Regions from separate parts of the Homo sapiens genome. Here all the other regions are reported to be linked to region 3. Evidence: microRNA targets listed by miRTarBase, many of them from high-throughput screens and not tested one by one. Region 3 holds a microRNA gene; each other region holds the end of a gene's coding sequence.

Region 1 (3,078 bases), not on the chromosome of region 3:
AGACACAGCATATGGAGTTCCATTTACTGTTTTTGAGTGAAAGGGGAGAAATCACATGTGGTGCATCTTAGCAAAATTGCTGAGCTGAAAAAAATAACCACAGCTAACAGCACCTGAATGAAAGGCAGCATGACCATTTCCCAACAAAATGGTTTTTTTCTACCAGCAAAATGTGTGGTTATTTTGCAGGTGACTTCATTCTGGGCCACTAGAATGAGGACTAAACTACGAGTCAGCAAACTTTTGTTCAAATCTAAAGTCAGTCACTCAGGGCTAGTTTTTCCTCTTTGTATCTTTCTCTCACTTCTCTACCTTTCTTCTCATTTTTCCCATTTGTTTCCAACAGGCCTTACATTCTAAGCTTCAAGCTCTGGGCAAAATTGAGTCAGAAGGTCTTTTAAGTCTGACCACCCAGCTTGTCAAGGAAAAACTCTCCACCTGTGAAGCAGAGGACATCGCCACCTATGAGCAGAATCTGCAGCAGTGGCATCTAGACCTTGTACAGTTGATCCAGAGAGAACAGCAACAGAGGGAGCAAGCGAAGCAGGAGTACCAGGCTCAGAAAGCAGCAAAGGCATCTGCCTAATAGGGTCCCCCAGGGCCCCACCTGTCTCACAAGAACTTCACTCAACCCCGTGCCAGGACTCAGCAGTGGCCTGGACAACAGCCTCAGCTTCCTCTACCCATCTTCTTTTCTTAAAGCAGGCTATGTGCCCTACATGGCAAGGCACCATGACTGCCCATCGAGATGCCAAGAAGGGCTATGGAACTATGCAGGTGGCTAGTGGTCAGACTGAAGTCACCAGCTGAATACCTTAAGGAGGACTCTTGAGGCTCATAATGGAGTTCCTGGGGCACAGGGATTAGTTATGAGCATTAAAGTTCCTAAGACCCAGTGACAGTACTGGGAGAAACCAAGGCTGAAGAGTCAGGTTGAAGCACAGGCTTTTGTTTTTTGTTGTTTTTGTTTTTTGAGACAGAGTCTCATTCTGTCACCCAGGCTGGAGTGCAGTGGCGCAATCTTGGCTCACTGCAACCTCCGACTCCCAGGTTCAAGCAATTCTCCTGCCTCGGCCTCCTTTAGTAGGTGGGATTACAGGTGCATACCACCACACCTTTCTAATTTTTGCATTTTTAGTAGAGATGGGGTTTCACCATGTTGGTCAGGCTGGTCTCAACCTCCTGACCTCAAGTGATCTGCCCGCCTCAGCCTCCCAAAGTGCTGGGATGATAGGCGTGAGCCACCACACCCGGCCAAGCACAGGCTTTTGAATGGTCTCCCTCTCCCCAGCCCAGGTACATGAGGCCAAGGTGAACTGTGCATCCTGAGACCTTGTGTCCCTGAGTCTCCTTTCTGAGTGCAAGCTGCACTGTGAGCTGGCTGTGGGATACTCACACATTCCCACATTCTCCTTTCTGCCACATCTCGCCCTTCTGGACCTGCACTGGGAGAAATTCAGGACAGGAGTGAACTCAAGGCCATGAACTCACTGGATTTCCATTTTTAGGCACCCATAGGGATGTTTTTAGGATGTAAGTTTCTGAGGAGAAAGCTAGCTCTAGCATGAAGCTTTTTTGGATTGGCTTCTCCATCGTGTTGGGGTAACATTTTTTTTCCAATTTTTTTTTTCCCAAAACATCGTCTCAGCTCATTTATCAAGTAGGTAAAATGAGCCTTTTGTGTACACACAGAGGCACATGTGCATGCACACACAACTTGTGAACACACATTTCTGTTAAAGAAGTTAGAAAATGAGAGATGGGTTGGGGCTTGAAGTGCATCAGAGGTATGAATGTTGTAAAACTGTCAGGAGATGTAAAATTCCTTTCTGAAGTGTCTCTTCTGTGAAAGGGTTCAGAGCAGATTTTGCTTACTATGTAGTGTTGCCCTTAAGTACAGTGGTGTAATTTTATTCAAGATTGTGCTCTTCTATCAAAAGCCTCTGGAAATAAATGTTCCGGGATCATGTTAGTGTACTCTTTATCTTTGGGGAAAGGGAGGAGGGAGAGGGACTCATTATTGTTACTATGATTTTGAGGAGTGTACTTTAAACCCTCCCCCATTAAACTATGGGATTTATTGTAATAATGATAACTGCCACCACTAATATTTATTAAGGACTTAACTGTAGGCTGAAAACCCAAGCAGCCCTATGAGGGAGGTACCAGTGTCCCCATTTTATGAAACAAAGCAGCTCTCCTGCTGCTCCTCTCCCTGCCTGTGGCCTCCATATAGAACCGCAGTAGTCAGGATCCAACACAGGGCCCTTTAGACTAGCAAAGCTGCTGAATCTTACTTAGGTAGAGGGCCGTGACCAAAAGTCAGTTCCAACATTTTGGTTTACCAACAACAGGAGTTTTTCAGCCACTCTCTCATTACATTAAGAGGAACATTCAACACAAACAAAAGGGCAACTTTTGCCCAGTAAATTAATGACTGTCACAACATGAAGTATCTGGTTAAGGCTTTGGCTCATCGTTTTGCCTTCATTTTTCCTCCCTCTCCAGCCCCAATGTACTTTACTTCTCTTCTTCACCAAAAGAGACCACTTCTGCCACTGTACTGTGGTCCCACAGGAATTTCCATGTTCCCTCCTCCTCAGGATTCCTTCCACACTTGTGCCCCATTTCTCAGGACTCTTGGAGTCTTTCCCCTCCAAATATTCTGCCCTTTCCCCATGTCCTTATCTCCTGAGCTATAGGATACTCTCCTGCCTTCCTTCACAATTGGCTCTTCCCAATACAGTTGTCCTTTGTCCCTTTCCCTGATGTCATCTTCCATATTTCTTCCATGTGGATGGAGAAACTGCTCTTGGTGCCCTGGCCTCTGGAGGTTACCTCAACTGGATCATCTCCCAGTAACAAATTACCTTCTGCAGCTGACCTGCCATAGTCACAGCCAAACCTCCAGCCTCATCACGAATCCGAGATCTTAGATCCTGAAGTCCCCACTCTCCCAGGCTCGTCTCGTACCATGACTGCTGCTGAACCAACTTGCTCTGTAATTTCCTGCCTGCTAATCCTTAGCCTTTACCCCATCACCCAAACTCTTGGTCTCCAGAATCTGCTTCTCTTCCA
Region 2 (3,090 bases), not on the chromosome of region 3:
TAAGAAGGCTCTTCGAACACTTGAAAGACCGGCATGTAGGCCGGGCGCAGTGACTCACGCCTGTAATCCCAGCAGTTTTGGAGGTCGAGGCGGGTGGATCACCTGAGTTTGGGAGTTTGATACCAGCCTGACCAACAAGGTGAAACCCCGTCTCTACTAAAAAATACAAACATTAGCTGGGCATGGTGGCGGGTGCCTGTAATCCCAGCTACTCCGGTGGTTGAGGCAGAATTGCTTGAACCCGGGAGGCAGAGGTTGCAGTGAGCTGAGATTGCATCACTGCACTCCAGCCTGAGACAAGAGCGAAACTCCATCTCAAACAAAACAAACAACCAACCAAACAAAACCAAAAAAAAAACTGGCATGTAGAAGAAAAATACTTTTTCTCTACACTTCTCCAAAGAATTTAACTAGGCCCAGGGGAGGTGCAGTATAAATTTCTAACAATCTCAACTGTCTGCCAAATGGAATGAGCTACTTCATATGGCAGTAGTGAGTCCTCTGTCTTTGGAGGCATTCAAATAAAAGCCAGATGGCCATTTATCAACAATCCATGTAAAACGTTAGATGAAATAAAACCTATATATCCAAGATCTCTTCCAATTCAGATTTTATGAAAGAATTTCTAAGGTCTTTGTAATGAGACATTTAGGCTGTTTCAAGAGATCAAGCCAAAATCAGTATGTGGGTTCATCTGCAATAAAAATGTTTGTTTTGCTTTTACAGTTTCCTCATTTGGCTGTTGGATTTTAAGCAAAAGCATCCAAGAAAAACAAGGCCTGTTCAAAAACAAGACAACTTCCTCTCACTGTTGCCTGCATTTGTACGTGAGAAACGCTCATGACAGCAAAGTCTCCTTATGTATAATGAAACAAGGTCAGAGACAGATTTGATATTAAAAAATTAAAGACTAAAAACTTAGTTTAAGAGTCAATTTAATAAGTTTAAAATAAATGTTTAGTTTCATTAGGATGATGCTATCAATATTTTCTTGGTTACAGACACATTATTAAAGTTTTGGGTTAATTTTATTGACAATTCTTAAGATTCTTTCTCATGCTTAATAAAGCATGCTACTCAGTTAACTCTTGTCTACATCAGCAAAGCAGATAATACAAAACAGGAAAATTACAAATCACTGATACTTAGTCCTTGTGGGAATCATGCTTTTCTCCCAGCAGTTTTACAAGGTGGCTGGCATTCCCTGAGCATATTCTGAATTGCACTGTGGGGAAAGAGGTTGTGCTCAGTTGTAGGGTGGGGGGATGCACTGCCTGAGGATTAAAAAACTAGTTCTGTGACCGTGAGGAAGTCGTTTAAATTTCCATGGTCTGTTCCCTCCTATGTGAAAAGAGAAGGTGGGCTTCAACCTCTAAGATCTTCTCCAGTTTTCACATTTTATGGACTTTTGTAGAAAAAACATCAGGAGTTCATGTGGGATGACAGCAAGTCATTTCTTTGAGGAGAGTCTTGATCACCAGGCAATATTCACAGTGTAGAGACTGTCAGATGACCATGGCTAGCATGGAAATGAGACCCACACATTTAAATCACCCAGCAAATATTCCGAAGGCTAATTGTAGCACATTTTATGAAAGACATTTCAAACTGTGGTCCTGAAGAGTGTATCCCATCTTGCAGAGGTGGGGAGCCTGGGGGGACAAGAGTTCTGAAGAGGAAGAGACAACAAGAGTTCCCAGTAGCTAATGTTTGTCATTCTAGTTGACCGTGCTGGTCTATTAGGCTAGTGGTTCAGTACACAGATGAAATGCAACATGGAACCCAGTTTATTATCAGAACAACTACAAAGAAATTGTCCCCTGTCTAAGACTGGAGTGTCAAGTCTCTGCCCTTTTTTCCTTTCCTTCAATGGTGGATGTGGAGTGACTGTGCATCCCACCAGAACCACGTGTCATGGCTGAGTCACATCTTCCTGCCCTTGGAATGAGAGGCACAGCGGAAGACCTTCCCATGGAAGGGACACAGGGAGCCTGGTGGCTGGACCATGGTGCTTCTCTCTTCCAACACGTCCACTCACCCCTTGGGAGACCCTCAAAAGCCAGTTACATTACATGTTCACAGAATTTTTGGTAAAAGTAAATACCAATTATAGTGAGGAAGAATTTTGACCACGGAATATTTTAAAAACTAAAAAATGTTTATATTTCATTTAACATTTGACACAGAAGAGACCACATTTGAATAAACACATTAAATCTTCAGAGCACTTTCATTGTGGTTTTGGACCTCAGATATGACAAATACTTACATTGACAAATCCATAATTTCTTTTGTAATTTCTTTTTATTTTTACAAATTATACCATGATAAAATTTGACAAAAATTATTCATGTGAAAGTTTCCTCTAACATTTTATAAGTTAATCAAGTGCATACCACAATAGATTTTTGGTTGTTGTTTAGGTGTTCTCGTGATTTTAGTATTACACAACTTTAAGCTGAGACTACACTCAGAAATAAGTTTAGAAAATGGCATTACAAAAGGTTGGGAGTGAGCAGTAAAAAAACAAACAAACCCATGCAGGGCTGTTGTGCTGTGGGAAATCAGATGTGTTCACTGCCATAAGTCTTCAGTGCGGCCAAACTTAAAAACCAGCCCTCTGTGAATAAAACAAGAAATATCACATGACTCCCTGAATTTGAGAAAAGAGTATGTGAGATTTCGAGAATGGTGTGAAACAAACAACGAAGAATAATTGATGAGTTGTAGAAGAAATTTTGGTACGAAATGTATCAAAACAGAAACTGATCATTCTAAGGTAGTGAATTCTTCCATTATGTTCAACTGTGCTATTAACCACCATATTCCCAACAACCTTAACTTTCAAGTACTGAATACACATGTGACTTTTAAAAAGTTACCAGTGTTTACTATGTAACCATTATATGTCTGATTTTTTTTTTTTTTTTTGAGACAGAGTCTTGCTCTGTCGCCCAGGCTGGAGTGCAGTGGCGTGATCTCGGCTCACTGCAAGCTCTGCCTCCCGGGTTCATGCCATTCTCCTGCCTCTGCCTCCTGAGTAGCTGGGACTACAGGCACCCGCCACCATACCCGGCTAATTTTTTGTAT
Region 3 (3,095 bases):
CAAAGGGAGCCATCTTCCCACCTCCCACCACCTCTCAGATTCGCTTCTGAAGACCTGGCTCAAAAGCAGTGGCTTTGTGGGACCGAGATGGAGGGAAGGATGGAGGTCGGCCTCTGGAAACTACAGCCGCCTTATCGATAACGGATTGCGCCAAGTTGCCAAAAGGAGTTTTCCAACATACGATCGAGTTCCAGTTTGTGATTTGTGACCTGTCCCAATTGTTGAAGTCACACTTGATTTTTTTTTTTTTTTTTCCTTTTTTGGAACTGATGTTTAGAGCTTGTTTGAGTTGGATCCAATGCTGTTTTAACAGCTGTTCTAATCAGAAGTGCTGTCAATTATTAACCTTAATGGTGGTTTTTCTTTCAAAAATATTTCTCTAAGCTCTCTTGAAATGTCAAAATTTGGCTTCTTGGTAGGAAGTCATTTAGTGAAATCACTTAATGGCTGGGCATCAGTTTCCCCATCTGAAAAGTGGAGATGTTGACAAGCGCCTTCTCCGCGGGGTTATTGTGGATGCACACATGGCGAGTTGGGTGGGTGATATCAGCGGTCATTACTGTTGTTAGGAGGGCTTCTGTTAAGCCAGCTTTCCATTTCCAGGAACTTCCCCTCCCCCAAGCGCCACCCTCCAAAAAATAAACATTTCTTTAAAATGTTGAGCGAACAGCTTTCCTGTTCATGCTTTGACTCTGCAGAGTGCACGCAGCCCATTCTCAGGGTTGGGCAGCCTTTGTAGAGATGGGGGAGGCCCAATCCCTGCTTCCACTTTGTGGGGAGACCCCAAGAGGGTACTAGCAGATGATGGCACAGTGACAGCTGGGAGGGATGGGATGTGCTTGCTTCATGTCCCTTTCCCAGGGGAGGGGCTGGGTTTACGTTGGGAGAACTTTTACGGTGAACCAGGAGGTTCTCCCAACGTAAGCCCAGCCCCTCCCCTCTGCCTGCCTCAACCCTACACAGTCCTGTCTGGTGACGTGCCAAAGTCCTTCCTGCCTTGCAGAGAGGCCTCTCTTCGTCGAACATGGGCCTCAGGAAAGACAGCCTGAATGCCACTACCCCAGGCTTGTGGAAGGTTCTGCATCTGTGTGGCATTGTTGCGATAGCCCTCAGTTGATGCTTGTTTGTGGTGTTGGGAGGCAGGAACTACTTTAGGAGGGTGGAGGGGTGAGAATGAGAGAGGACTTGCCCTGAGCCACCCAGCTGTGGTCACCTGATGGCCCGGATGGCTACATAAATCCTGGGAGATCCGTTGTCCTCATAACCAGAGTGAGCTGGGCTCCAGACCAGCCCTATGGGAAGATCCTGTCTGTGGGAAGCCTTTGGCCACGTGTTTGCTGAAGGGTGTGGGGAAGGGCAAGGTCAGCTACGTTTCTTTTTTGTCAACTCCCGAGACCCTGACCCTTGGCCTGTTTACCAGTGGAAGGAGGCCATAGCCAGAACCCTTTTATAATCACCCTGCCTCCCTGCTCTCCCAGAGACTGTGAGAGTTAATAGTTGCTGAGGAGGCCAGAATGACTGGGGATGTTCTGACCTTGCCCCTGCCTTCCTGGCTGTGGGGAGGAGTAGTGGCCAGGGACCCATCTAGGTGGCTTGCGATTGGCCTGGCTTGGAGGTGCCACCCCACCCCGTTGGTGAAGGGCTTGGGCCACTGGCCACCAAGTGTATGTCAACACTCCATCCACCACGGCCCCTCCCACAGATGCTGCCCATGCTGGGGCAGGCCCAGATCCACAGCAAGGGGTCACTGCAATATGAAGTCTCAATAAATGCAGAGATGCCAGTGATACTATTCTTTGGGCCAAACATTTACGGAGCAGCTACTGTGTGCCAGACACTGCTCTATTGTTGTTTAAGATAACAGGCCTTGGACCTGTGAGCTTCCTAAACAGTAAGGTTGGTTTTTTTTGTTTATTTTTGTTTGCTTTTTGTTTTTTACATATCTTTCTATTCTTATTTGGTGCATGAACTCAAAGGTGAGAGAACTTGTTACTCTGCCGGTTTGGAGTGAGCTGCAGCCTATGCTTGTTTCTAGAACTCCTGCCCTATCCAACCCGGACTTTTTTGCTTCATTCCCCATTCCTACTATCAGTTGATTTAGGCGAGGAAAAAATAAGCAGAGTGAGGAAGGACCCTGTTTGGGAGAGCTCTTCCCACTTAACTAGATTAACAATTTATATAATGATTATTTAGTAATCCTCCTGGGTTCCTTAGAGTATGAATGACGGGTGTCTAGTGGGTGGAGAGGCCAGGGATGCTTTTAAAAGCCCTGCAGTGCACAGAACGGGCTCCACACAGCAGTGAATTATCTGACCTCAGATGTCAATAGCATGGTGTTTGAGAAACCCTGATGTATGGTGTCCTGGCTAGAGTGCCCCACACATGTGTCAATGTGGAGTCCCAGTGGGTCTGAGCTGGGCAGTTTGGAAGTGGGGGCCATTGTTGACACAGTTGGCCTGGGATATGAGCGACAGTCCTTTATAACAGGAATTGTCTCTCCCCAAATGCCAACAGTGGTGCTGGCTGGGAAACACTGACTCTGTTCCTGAGGAGCTAGAGTGTTCTAGGCAGAAAGCTGACAGCAGTGATTCCTGATCCTCTCCCTGCCAGGAACCCCCACTGTAGCGGACAGGCTCCGTAGGTTGGCGAGCCCTGCCACCGTGGCTGGCAGCCCAGGACACAGGCCTGCAAAAACCCATAAGGCTCTTTAGTTGATGGCCTGCCTTTCCACAAACCAGAGGCGTCCTCTTTAGTGGCCAAGGGTGGAGGGGGTGGAGGGTGTTAGCCCAAGGAATTCTCCCGAGGTCCAGGGTCTATTTATGCGCCTTCAGATTGTTTTTATTTTAAGTGCACAAGGATTTCTCATCCAGAATCATTTGACATGCAGATGATCACAGATTTTTAAAGGCTGTTGTCATGGTTTTGTCTCTGAAAGATTGCTATGTGCTGATGAAAGCTTTGAAGCCAGCTTTGGGACCTCAGTCCTGGCGGGCTCAGGATTCAGAATGAGATAAGAAAAGCAATTCTGAGAGTCGTCTGTCAGTGGTTCTAGGCCTTTCTATCTGGACTCAGTTAACCCGTATAGCACCACTCTT
Region 4 (3,095 bases), not on the chromosome of region 3:
CAGATAATCTAACCTTAATCACAAAGGTGGTCCGAGTTATTTAGTAGGTACAGAGTAGAAAGATATGGTTAAGGCTGGGCGCGGTGGCTCACGCCTGTAATCCCAGCTCTTTGGGAGGCCCAGGGGGGCGGATCACCTGAGATCAGGAGTTCAAGACCAGCCTGGCCAACATGGTGAAACCCCACCTCTACTAAAAATACAAAAATTAGCCGGGCGTGGTGGTGCGCGCCTGTAATCTCAGCTACTCAGGAGGCTGAGGCAGGAGAATCACTTGAACCCAGAAGGCGGAGGTTGCAGTGAGCCGAGATCGCGCCATTGCACTTCAGCCTGGGCAACAGAGTGAGACTCCGTCTCAAAAAAAAAAAAAAAAAAAAAAAGATATGGTTAAATTTGCACAGCTACACTCTCAAATAAGAACATGATATGTTAATTTGTATATCGTTTTAAAATAGCACTGGCTCTCCGCCAAACACATAAGAGATGGGATTTTCTAGCTTTGTAGTCATCTTCTGTACTGTCTCTGGTCAGCATAGTGGCTTTATGCACGTCTGTATCTCGGCTTTCACTTCTCAGACGGGATTCCCTGCAAGTGGCACCTACTCAGTGAATTCTTCTCTGCCGGAAGACCCTGCAGGGCTCGTGCCTGCCCAGGTTGGCTCTTCCCTCACCTCCAGGCGTTAGCTCAGTACACCTGGCCACAGTCAGAGCATCCTTGGCCAGCGCAGGCTCCTGTGCAAAGTGGGGGGCCTGTATCCCCAGCCCCACACTGAGTTCCCTGCTCACACTTCCTCTGGGCTCCGCGGGTGGGCCACACCTGGTTCAGGATCTCCCTAGGCAGCCGTTGCCTCAGGAGAATGCTGGAGGACATTGTTCCCTTTTCCTCCCTCCACTCGGTGCCCCAGGGCTGTGCTGAGGCGCCCGAACCCTTAAGGTGTGGCTGGTGCCAACTGAGACCTGCTGTGAGTACAAGACACCCTGCATTTCAAATATTGGGTACACATAAAGGAATGTGAAATCTCAATCATTTTCATTCTGATTACACATTGAAACGATAGTATTTTGGATACATTGGGATAAATAAAAGATTATTAAAACTAATTTTACCTGCTCCTTTTCAAAGTTTTACATGTAGCTACTAGAAACTTTAACAGTACTCATGTGGCTGGCAGATCTTGCTGTTGGCAGTGTTGCCGAGAGGGACAGCAGGATGGAGGCAGCCCCCCCAGAGGCAGCTCCCAAAGTCCCCATTTCCAGGTCACCTTCCAGCTCCCAAGGGTGAAGGAGGCCAGGTGGCTCCCCCAGCAGTGCGCCTCCCTGTTCGCCGCGATGCTGACAGGACTGAAAGCACACACAGCAAGTGGGGTGTACGGCTGGCTGAGGGTTCCACGTCTCACAATGCATGTCTTTACCTCTGGTTTTCTGCCACAGACTCTGGATCCCAGGGGTCCAAAGGGAATTGCAAAGGGGAAGAATTCAGTCTTCCTTTTCTCCTCTGTGGCTTCCTGTGGCTGTGTTTGCAACTAGACTGTTCCAGACAGCTCCACAAAAGACAGCTTCCTCCCTGGTTGCTTGCTCACTTATGTGCCCAGTGCCTGGGCCCGGCAGCCACACTTCTGTCTCTGCTGCATTTGTACTTGAGTTTCCTGAACACCCTCTAAGTGGCCAACACTAGTAATGAATGCAGAAACATGAAAGAATATTCTCTCAATACATTTCAGGGTGGGTACTCATCAGATGAACACATTTTCAGTTACTAAGTTAATGACAACAATTGAAGACATTGGAAATTTTTATTCATCTTTGCTTTACAACAGAACCAAAAGCGTCAACTTAAGAATTCATTTTACCTGCTGGTTTCCACAAGCTAGTTATGTGAACCATGTTTTACAAACAATAATAATATTACAACAATAATTATGGAGAAGTTAATTGGATAATAGAGCTTTTCCACAATTCAAGTAGAAACACAGAAGAAACTGGATAATTTTAAGTCCTCTAACTCAAGACATGCTGGTGCAAGCCTGGCCTGCGAGGCCCCATTGCCTGCGTCTCCCGGGGGCCTTAGGAAAGACTGACAGTTCGCGTGCCTCTGGGGAAATATCTACGCTACAGAAAATCTTTAGGTGTTCAGTAGTTCTCTAGAGATTTTAAGTGGTATCACAACAGCCCATCCGGAGAACTTATTTCTAAATAATTTGAAAAACAAACAAGAAACCATTAGGGTTTTCATGCAGAGCAGCCTCCAGAGCAACATTCTCTGAGAGGAAGAGTCGACCAGAGTGAGCTCTCCGCAGGGCCTGCTCTGCCCTCCCCTGCCCCGCTCTGCCCTTCGCAGGGCCTGCTGTGCCCTCCCCTGCCCTGCTCTGCCCTCCGCCGCCCTGCAGACACTCTCCCAGGACTATGGGAACCCAAGCTCTCTCCTCTGGGCCAGACAAACAATGCTCAGGCCATGCACCTCCTCAGAAAAGGGGGCATGGGTTGCCACATCTTCAGAGAGCTCTGAGTAAACTCCCTGGGCCCAGGGATGCAGGGGAGCCTGGTTGTTGCTGCAGAGCCAGCCTCATGTTCCCCTAAACATCCTTTCTAAACTAGAGATTTCTAGACTAAGACAAAATCAACATGCATTCACACTTTATACTCTACTCCATTTTCAATCCCTTAGATTTAAACTCAGTGTGGAGAATCTGTGATAAGCACCTTCCAAATTCCTCCAGGATCATCTGCTCTGCCAGGCACTTGGAGCAGTGTTCTTTCTCGGCCTCTTCTCCCTGAGCAAGCAGGCAGGCGCATGTGGCCTCCACCACCTCCCAGGAGATGCATGAGGAAGGCCGCCTGTCAGAAACAGAGCAGTTAAAGGCCGCTCAACAGTGCACCATTTCTACCTACAGTACTATTTATATTCAACAGAACATTGCTTGTCCATGCTATTTTAAAGAACATCATCCACTAAAATCTAACGTTGTCTTCCTCATACTGGAAACTATTAGGCTGGGCACAGTGGTCTGTAATCCCAGCACCTTGGGAGGCCAAGGCAGGAGGATGGTCTGAAGCCAGGAGTTTGAGACCAGCCTGGGCAACAAAGTGAGACCCTTTTT
Region 5 (3,000 bases), not on the chromosome of region 3:
TCACACCTGTAATCCCGGCACTTGGGGAGGTCGAAGTGGATGGATTGCTTGAGCCCAGGAGTTTGAGATCACCCTGGGCAACATAGTGAAACCTCATCTCTACAAAAAATTTAAAAATTATTCAGGTGTGGTTGTGTGCACATGTAGTCCTAGCTACTTGGGAGGCTGAGGTGGGAGGATTGCTTGAGGCCAGAAGTTACAGGCCATGGTGAGCCGTGATTGTGCCACTGCACTCCAGCCTGGATGGCAGAGTAAGACCCTGTCTCAAAAAAATAATAAAAAATAAAAATAATTAAACAGAACACTTCCTATCCCAATCCTCCTTATGCTTCCAGAATCCCAAATTCCTCATGGGCTGAGCCCTCACTTGGTTTTATCTCTCTTTTCAGATCCGAATTCAGAGGCCTCAGGTAATGACGACATCATTTTAAGGCATGGAGCTGAGAAGTCTGGGAGTGAGGAGATCCCAGTCCGGCTAAGCTTGGTGGAGCATTTTCCCATTGAGAGCCTTCCATGGGAACTCAATGTTCCCATTGTAAGTACAGGAAACAAGCCCTGTACTTACCAAGGAGAAAGAGGAGAGACAGCAGTGCTGGGAGATTCTCAAATAGAAACCCGTGGACGCTCCAATGGGCTTGTCATGATATCAGGCTAGGCTTTCCTGCTCATTTTTCAAAGACGCTCCAGATTTGAGGGTACTCTGACTGCAACATCTTTCACCCCATTGATCGCCAGGATTGATTTGGTTGATCTGGCTGAGCAGGCGGGTGTCCCCGTCCTCCCTCACTGCCCCATATGTGTCCCTCCTAAAGCTGCATGCTCAGTTGAAGAGGACGAGAGGACGACCTTCTCTGATAGAGGAGGACCACGCTTCAGTCAAAGGCATACAAGTATCTATCTGGACTTCCCTGCTAGCACTTCCAAACAAGCTCAGAGATGTTCCTCCCCTCATCTGCCCGGGTTCAGTACCATGGACAGCGCCCTCGACCCGCTGTTTACAACCATGACCCCTTGGACACTGGACTGCATGCACTTTACATATCACAAAATGCTCTCATAAGAATTATTGCATACCATCTTCATGAAAAACACCTGTATTTAAATATAGAGCATTTACCTTTTGGTATATAAGATTGTGGGTATTTTTTAAGTTCTTATTGTTATGAGTTCTGATTTTTTCCTTAGTAAATATTATAATATATATTTGTAGTAACTAAAAATAATAAAGCAATTTTATTACAATTTTCATGGTTCCCAGATCTTTCCTCCTGTTTCCCATAGCTCCTGTTTCTAACCTCCCAGACTCTCTCTCTCTCCTCCAGAACATAAAATCGGATGCTTTTGGGGTTCAAGACAACAAGAGAGAGATTTGCAGTGGAAAGAGGACCATTCCTTGAACTCCACTGACACCATTTGCTGGTGTCCAAGAGGCAAGGCAGACAGACAGACAGACACACACACACATATACACATACACACAGAGGGGGGGGGGGGAGAGAGAGAGAGAGAGAGAGAGAGAGAGAGAGAGAGAGAGAGACTCACTTCCTACCAAAGAAAACCAAATTTTGCAAGCTCTCCTTCTGAAAACGGGCTTTTATTTCTTTCCATACATCTAAAGAGATAGAGACCTGGGTTCTATTTCAAGCTTTCTCGTGAATTCCTTGGGTTAAATCTGGGAAAAATCTATTTGGACTCAGTCTTGCCTTCTGCCGAATAAGGACTAGGTTATTTCTAAAGCCTCTTTCATCGCTGTCCTTCTTAATATTCCTAGGACGCTTTTTAATAATTATTGTTATTCCAGCCATGCCGCTCAGGATTCATTGTATTCTTGAAAGTCTGTCCCACCCGCCACCCGCTTCAAAGCCTAACCTGAGACAGAACCTGGACTCTGCTTCCCCCTACTGGACACTCTGAGCACCTGCAGGCACCATGCCGTTTCTCAGCGGTCCCCTTCTGGCCTCTCCTGTGACAAAAATATTCCGTTACACTTGATCATTTCCATATTTGCCATCAAAATTCTGTTTCTTTTCTTTTCCTTTTTTTGAAACAAAGTCTCACTCTTTCGCAAAGGCCAAAGCACAGTGGTGTGATCACTGCTCACTGCAACCTTGAGCTCCTGGGCTCAAGAATTCCTCCAGCCTCAGCCTCCCAAGTAACTGAGACCACAGATGCCGGCCACCACGCCCGGCTAATTTTTAATTTTTTCGTAGAGACGGGGTTTCGCTGTATTGTCCAGGCTGGTCTTGAATTCCTAGGCTCAAACGATCCAACCACTTCTGTCTCCCAAAATGCTGGGATTCCAGGCATGAGCCACTATGCCCGGCCTTTTTTTTTTTTTTTAATTTTGAAAATTTGCAAATCTACAGGGAAGTTAAAACAATAAAGTTAAAAAAGTGAACCCTACCTGGGCGTGGTGGCTCACGCCTGTAATCCCAGCACTTTGGGAGGCCGAGGCAGGCGGATCACCTGAGGTCAGGAGTTCAAGACCAGCCTGGCCAACATGGTAAAACCCTGACTCTATTAAAAATACAAAAACTAGCCGGGAATGGTGGCGCATGCCTGTAATCCCACTTACTTAGGAGGCTGAGGCAGGAGAATGGCTTGAACCTGGGAGGCGGAGGTTGCAGTGAGCGGAGATCGTACCACTGCATTCCAGCCTGGGTGACAGAGAGAGTCTGTCTTAAAAAAAAAAAAAAATTACACATATATATGTATATATAACAGTGAACCCCATATAACCTTCACCTGGAGTTATCAGTTGTTAACGTTGTGTCCTATTTGCTCTAAAGTGGTATGTATTTTTTCGAATTAAGCAAAATTGGAAATTAAAAATTAGAAAAGTTACAAATAAAAAATTACCACGAACCTGACCTTTTTTTTTTTAATTTTAGACTCAAGGGGTACATGTGCAGGTTTGTTTCAAAGGTATATTGTGTGGTGCTGAGGCTTAGAGTATGAATAAATCTGTCACACAGGTAGTGAGCATAGTACCCAATAGGT
Region 6 (3,095 bases), not on the chromosome of region 3:
CACTCCTTTCACCAAAGCACTAAAGCACCCTGGTGAGTACAAGTATGTGGTCGAGAGCCTCACCCTCAGGTAAGTAAGCATTCTACAGCTCTCCTTCCCCTCACATGGGCACGTGATATGCTGGTCCCACCCCATCTTTTCTCCATCCCTAGCGCAAAGGCCAGTGTGGAGCACAATCTAGGTGCTTGTCAAATGTTAATTTAAGGGCCTCCTTCACGTCCTTCAAACCTCTCTCCACTGAGCCCAGTCAACCATAAGGCCCAAGTACAAAATCCTCAGGAAGGGACAAGCCTCATTTTCCATTCAAGACAAAAGGAATGGAGTCTGCTCCTTGGTGACAGCCCCAACTGCTTGTCAAACCACTCTGGCCTTATTAGGCCAATCTATTGGAAGTACTGCTGGGAGAGGCTGGCCCCACTGGGACAGACGCAGACTCCCGTGATGGCAGAGAATGCCGGGCCCGGGAATGCATACCCAGAGACACTTCCCCAGAAGCTCGTAGGTGCCACCGCTCCTCCTCTTCACTCCAAGCCAGATGCAAAGAATGGGGGAGTGAAAGTTACTTAACTGATCTCCCCCAACCATCTCATTTTATCCAGGAGAAAATGGGGGCCCAGGACTAAGTGCTTCTCCAAAGGTCAAGGTGAAATAGAAAAGCCAGAGCTTCTATTTCTGTGGTAAGATGCATCCCCTTCAGTTTCCTGTGACTTAAGCCTGTCACAAGGCAGGGGCTCAGGATCGCCCTCTGATAGGAAGTCAGGGCCACCATGGGATGGGTGGTAACTGATGAGGCATCCTTTCAGGCCTGTTGATCCTTCCCTTGCTTTCTCCTGAGGCCAGTTTCCCTCCCTAAATGTCTTAGATGAACAAAAGCTCACTGCCACTTGTAGGACACCTCGTATCATTATGCCAAGTTTCTACCCTCAGGCCCTCTTTATATTCCCATCTATTCAGAACTGGTATTTTAAAGATCCCAGAGCACCTGCTATGTGCCAGAGACAGGAGCCAAGATGAACTGTGCTGCACCACTGCACACAAGCCTCATCCTGTCCTCTTGGTTTAGATATTGCTCAGAACCTATTGTTGTATTCAACTATACTTGCACTTGCTCCTATTTGCCCTACATGGGCGTAACTCCTTAAACCAAGCTTTGTTCAGAATTCCTCTGATTGATCATTTAAGTAAATTTAAAAGTCAATTTAAGGAATATAAAAACTGCATAATTTCCAACTCAAGAGTATAAACTTAGATCACTCATTAGCCTCTGGTTGAAAACAGTAATCGTGATTTATACGGAATGCTAAATATCTATGTTCTAAGTGTGCTCTCTTGCCACAAACCCATTTAATCCTAACAATCTTAGGAGGTAAGTTGAGGTAGGCTGTTATTGTTCTCATGAATAAGTTTGGTAAAACCCCAATCTCAAGATACAGCCCAAGCAGCAGAGGCACATGCGTTAGCAACACATGGACCCCACCGCAGTATTAGCAATCATCTTTTGCTATAAGTGCTTGGCTTCCAAGAGCTTTTATACAGATGTCTGAGAGGCACAAAATATGTATAATTAGGCTATTTCTCAAATAGCACAGGAAAGCTGCCAAAGGCGTTCCCTGAATTGAGAGGCAAAGCACTGACAATGGGGACTATTACAGCCTCTGGATACAAGATGACGTATCTGCCAACCTTAACCACCCGAGTCAAATGCTACTTTAGAAATAATTAAGGTTCCCTTTAGTCATTTCACAGGAGTTGCTACAGCAGTACATAAAGTTTTATTAATATTCTGATTCTCGTGTCATAGCTTTTATGGCAGGAAAGGATGAGGACATGCCCCACCTGTAACGTAGAGCAAGCAAACCACCAAGTAGAATCTTGAGATTCTCTCTCAACTGTTCTCTAGAAACACGCTTGTGCTTTTAATCTGCCTTTTAAAAGGGACACAGAACAAAAAATGGTTGTTTGCAAATAAACATCTGAAAGAAAGTAACAGCTGACCTGGGCTGAGGCATCCAAACAAAGCAGTCATTGTGGAAGGAGACAATGCAAACCACACTGGGGCAAGAAACGGGGCAGAGAACGTGCGGTCATTTGTGCGTTGGGTATTTCTACCAGCCCCAAAGGCCCCATCTGGAACAAGTATCAACCAGGAGGGGCTCTATGGCTTGATTTATTAACCTAACTCAAAAGAAGTCACTGCCACCAACAGCACTGTGCAGTTTTATTAACCATTCAAGTCCAGTAGCATCTGGTAAGATTGGGACAGAATTGGGATTGAAAAGTGAACAGATATTCAGCATCTAACAGTTCAAAAGAAGCCACTACATACTCTTTTCACAAATATGTTTTCACAGAGCCAATACAGTACTAGCCATTAACCCAGTACACCAAGTGTACTGAAGTAGAAAAGATGCAACAAGAAAAATAGCTACATTAGAAAGACCAACACTTTAGAAAAAGAGTAAAACACTTTCAGTTTCTCCCCTTTAGCCCCTAAAACAACATCTTACAGTCTGGATCTGGATCTACCTATACAGTCCTACATTAGCTTCTAAAATATTTGTCAGGAGGGAAAAAATAAAATGACACTGGCCAGTACAGTCTTTGGATATTTAGGAAGGGGATGGGGAGAAAGTCAGTTCTCAGAACAAATTAGTCAGCTTCAGTCTCGTCAGCAGGGTCTTTGGATTCTTTGTTCTTCCGCACTTCTTCAATGTGCTTATCCTGTAAAGGAAGGGTAAGGTGTCATCAGTCAAAAAAAAAAAAAAAAAAAAAAGCCTGTCAAGTCACGACCCCCAGCCCCCACCTCAAAGAGGCCCAACACAACCTCAGTGCATATATTACAGCCTGTGGGAACCACACAATTTAAGTTCTGAGACATCATCATCAAATCTCCTGGGTCCCTTGTAGAACCTAACAAGCTGCCTACTGGACTTCCAAGGACTGTGCAATTATGCTGGGAATTACTGAATATTCCATCTTAAAATATACCTTTCATTTAATATGTTAAGCCCCAAAATGGATGACAAAAAGACACCAAACACCTTTTATCAAAGCACTTAGTTCAAGCCAACTCATTGGTGCATCAAACTCCAAGC
Region 7 (3,095 bases), not on the chromosome of region 3:
CTGAACCTACTGAAGTGGAGGAGGTGGTCCCCGCACTGGAACCCACAGAAACGCTGCTGAGTGAGAAGGAGATAAACGCAAGGGAAGAGAGCCTTGTGGAAGAGCTGTCCCCTGCCAGCGAGAAGAAGCCCGTGCCGCCGTCTGAGGGCAAGTCTAGACTGTCCCCCGCCGGTGAGATGAAGCCCATGCCGCTGTCTGAGGGCAAGTCTATACTGCTGTTTGGAGGGGCTGCTGCTGTTGCCATCCTGGCAGTGGCCATCGGGGTAGCCCTGGCTCTGAGAAAGAAATAGGAGGCTTTTCAGAAGAGAAAGACAGAAGGATGTAAGGTTGGAGTTGTATTGGCTGGAATTTGAACCTCCAGCAGCTGTCTGGACATTTGTGGAACACTCTGGGATAATTGGGGACTTCTGCTCAACATGGCAGTGGCATGTTAGGCATGTTAGGGCTTGAGGTGGGGCATTCACATTCATCTGACTGTAAATCCCAAGGGCCTCCGCTCATGCTAAATTGAGAATCTTAGGGGTAAAGCACCCCCTCCAGGACCGGGTTTCTCAGCCTTGGCACTAGTGCTGTTCTGACCATTCTCTGTGTTGGGGCTGTCCTGTGTGTGGTGGGCTCCACCCACTAGATGCCAGTGGCACCCCCTCCCAGAGATGACAAACGAAAATGTCTCTAGACATTGCCAAATGTCCCGTGTGAACATCCCCTATTGAGACCCACTGCTTTAGCGAGAGAGGGTTTACTTAGGAAGAATTGGGATAGAAATTCCCAGCTGAGAGAACTTAGCTGTGGGCTCCTCAGCTACTGACTTCTTAGCTCTTAATCCCCTTAGAATTTCATCTTTCTCGATGAGCAGGCTCTGCACCCACTCTTTTTTTGCCCCCCGCCCTCATCCTGGAGTGTGAGGGTGCTCGCCCGTACTCTCAGCTGCCTCTCAGGGACTGCACTGTTCCTCTTCACCCCCAGGTTCCTGCTAAGATCCCACGGGCGAGGGCTTGCTCTGGACTCAGTCTGTCAAGTCCCCGAAGCTTCCTGCAGCTCCACCTTGTAAAAATGCTGCCTTTGGGAATCTTCGAAATATGTACACAGAGAAAATCACATGAAGGAGACCTGGGGTCCCCACTTGTGAGTGCAACTGCAAGTAACTCTGGCTAGAGAGACACATGTGTCTTGTGTCAAGGCAGGAGGATAACCTGGATGACCTTCTGAGGTCTCTTCAGCCCTTTTCGCTAGTGGTCACCCACCACCATGGTTACTTGCCAGCAACATCTCTATTGCTGGATGGTCCCTGTCTATAACCTTGGGCTAGTATATTTTTTCCAATATGGGACCTTAGTCTTACTACTGATGAGTTCTATGGGTCTCTTGCTAGGGGGTAAGGATTTTTATTCTTGGGCTTATAGAGCCAGTTAGATCATAATTCTTATGAAATAGAGAGTGTCCTAAATATCACTGAAATAAAAAGTAGGAAAAAGAAGCTTGAATTTTAAGACTGAGGCTGCTCTGCAGATTCTAGTTTGGCTTTCAGAGTTCAAGAGTGGTGGCATCTTCACCTGAATTCTTCAATGCCAGGGTAATAAACCAAAATAGTCCTAATCAGTATATGCTAGTTGAGCATCGGCATAATTTTCTTTCCTCTGGCTGATCCCAGCCCTAAAGGAAGGGTAGACCCGTGTCTTTCCAGCCCTAAAGGAAGGGTAGACCCGTGTCTTTCCAGCCCTAAAGGAAGGGCAGACCCGTGTCTTTCCATGCCCGAGGGCCACGACGTCACTATGCAGGGCACACGTGGCTTGGTTTAAAAAGGTCATCTTAGATTTATCTTAGTAAATGTAATAAATTATTTTTTAGATCTTGAAATTTATAATAAAAATACTTTACCTACCCTGATCACCAAAACCTGATGTTTTAAATGTGCTTTCTTTTTGAAATTTATGTTTTCAAATAAAATCTCCCTAAAGCAATATTTAAAAATTGGTCAAAACAAGGTCTGGGAGTATGTTTGTGTGTCTTTCCAGCTTTATCCTGTAGCGTGTCTTTGTTCTGTGTTTTAGTGTCCCATTTAGGGAGTGATGTTTTAAGGGTTTTTGTGTACTTGGATTAAGTAATTAGAGGTGAGTGGGGGGAATGGGATTATTGAGGCAATGATTTTTTTCTTCATGGGCTCTGATAGTTGCATTGATTGTTCTGTATTCTAATTGCTATATTTGTGTTTGCATAGGTGAAGAGCAAACTGGTGCGTTATCTTGATTTTTAAAAAGTAATAAATCCTATGAGTTCCAGTATTAACACTTGCCAGTTCTGGATCCTCACACCCATTGGCTGAGCGCATTCAAGCACCAATCGAAGCCAGGTTCATCTCTGAGCTGCTGAAAGGAGGTGTGAGGCTTAGGAAATTGGAGCCTGTGTTGCCCACGAAAGGAAAGAATAAGGAAGAAATGTGGTATGGAAGCGGCTACTTGCTGCTTTATTTTCCCACCTGTTAGACATTCCTCCACAGTGATTTGGCCAGTTGTATTTCACGGTAATGGAACTAGATAGTGTTTTCCATTGGCTTTCTCTGGTAGCTCTTGGTCAGCTCCTGAGTTAACAGGATGTGGCAGCATCCCTGTTCTTCCTTCACGTCCTCACCCTCTGCCTCCAGCAGTGGAAGGGAACAGCCCTCATGAGGACTGCTTCCTACTGCAGCTCCTGCTTTTTGCTCATACATTTAAAAAACTATTTCTCAAGCTTCCCCTCCTTTTGGGGGGAGGAGCTGATAGTAGGAGGCCATTCCTTCCACCTCCAACTTATACCCTCTAAGTCTAAGGTGAAGGAAAGATTCAGAATAAATCCAACTTGTTTATAGAAAAGTTCTTGTTAGTCCTTAGACCTCATCTCAACTGCTCTGTTGAAGGTAATGATTTATTGGGGGGAAAAAACAACGCCAATTTATCCTCTCTGTATTAAAGTGATAATTCTGGGCCCACAGAAATCAGTCAGTACCTGCGGTGTGCCTTAAGGGGACTCTCATGATCATCATTCCCTTCTAGAGAACATTCTAGATGAAGAAATGCAACTGTTGACCTTCTGGTTCACCCATCTCCCCCTCGAGGCAT

What was found. Region 3 holds the annotated microRNA hsa-miR-629-3p (GUUCUCCCAACGUAAGCCCAGC, at 910-931, shown strand). A microRNA usually pairs through its seed, bases 2 to 8, with sites in the 3' UTR of a target mRNA and lowers its output. Matches are read on the target gene's strand: a 7mer-m8 pairs with bases 2 to 8, a 7mer-A1 pairs with bases 2 to 7 and ends in A, and an 8mer does both.
Region 1: miRTarBase lists MRPS27 as a target of hsa-miR-629-3p. Seed matches in the 3' UTR shown: 8mer at 907-914, 8mer at 1,448-1,455 and 7mer-A1 at 1,546-1,552.
Region 2: the mRNA of TMEM50A is a reported target of hsa-miR-629-3p. Seed matches in the 3' UTR shown: 8mer at 1,169-1,176.
Region 4: miRTarBase lists TESMIN as a target of hsa-miR-629-3p. The part of its 3' UTR that is shown has no 7-base or 8-base seed match.
Region 5: the mRNA of MUC17 is a reported target of hsa-miR-629-3p. Seed matches in the 3' UTR shown: 7mer-A1 at 569-575.
Region 6: miRTarBase lists STMN1 as a target of hsa-miR-629-3p. Seed matches in the 3' UTR shown: 8mer at 2,474-2,481.
Region 7: miRTarBase lists BCL2L13 as a target of hsa-miR-629-3p. The part of its 3' UTR that is shown has no 7-base or 8-base seed match.

What each region holds. Positions count from the first base shown.
Region 1 is chr5:72,218,417-72,221,494 of GRCh38, reverse strand. It overlaps MRPS27 (mitochondrial ribosomal protein S27), which reads left to right. Exons shown (of 11, transcript NM_015084.3): 11 at 347-2,092. The coding sequence ends at 586. Among named protein-coding and RNA genes, the nearest start is that of MIR4803, 50 kb to the right of the region's middle.
Region 2 is chr1:25,360,190-25,363,279 of GRCh38, reverse strand. TMEM50A (transmembrane protein 50A) reads right to left here. Exons shown (of 7, transcript NM_014313.4): 7 at 919-2,620. The coding sequence ends at 2,575. It overlaps RHCE (Rh blood group CcEe antigens), which reads left to right. Exons shown (of 10, transcript NM_020485.8): 10 at 727-1,031. The coding sequence ends at 753. Among named protein-coding and RNA genes, the nearest start is that of TMEM50A, 23 kb to the right of the region's middle.
Region 3 is chr15:70,077,223-70,080,317 of GRCh38, reverse strand. It overlaps MIR629 (microRNA 629), which reads left to right and starts at 850; the gene lies at 850-946. All of the region lies in intron 4 of TLE3 (TLE family member 3, transcriptional corepressor), which reads left to right. RefSeq lists enhancers at 786-1,392, 1,393-1,999.
Region 4 is chr11:68,705,669-68,708,763 of GRCh38, forward strand. It overlaps TESMIN (testis expressed metallothionein like protein), which reads right to left. Exons shown (of 10, transcript NM_004923.3): 10 at 1,772-2,832. The coding sequence ends at 2,640. Among named protein-coding and RNA genes, the nearest start is that of GAL, 23 kb to the left of the region's middle. RefSeq lists an enhancer at 1,051-1,809.
Region 5 is chr7:101,057,614-101,060,613 of GRCh38, forward strand. MUC17 (mucin 17, cell surface associated) reads left to right here. Exons shown (of 13, transcript NM_001040105.2): 13 at 390-1,246. The coding sequence ends at 431. It also overlaps the pseudogene RN7SKP54. Among named protein-coding and RNA genes, the nearest start is that of TRIM56, 26 kb to the right of the region's middle.
Region 6 is chr1:25,898,367-25,901,461 of GRCh38, forward strand. STMN1 (stathmin 1) reads right to left here. Exons shown (of 5, transcript NM_005563.4): 5 at 1,750-2,721. The coding sequence ends at 2,650. Among named protein-coding and RNA genes, the nearest start is that of STMN1, 6.5 kb to the right of the region's middle.
Region 7 is chr22:17,727,245-17,730,339 of GRCh38, forward strand. BCL2L13 (BCL2 like 13) reads left to right here. Exons shown (of 7, transcript NM_015367.4): 7 at 1-3,095. The coding sequence ends at 290. Among named protein-coding and RNA genes, the nearest start is that of MIR3198-1, 35 kb to the right of the region's middle.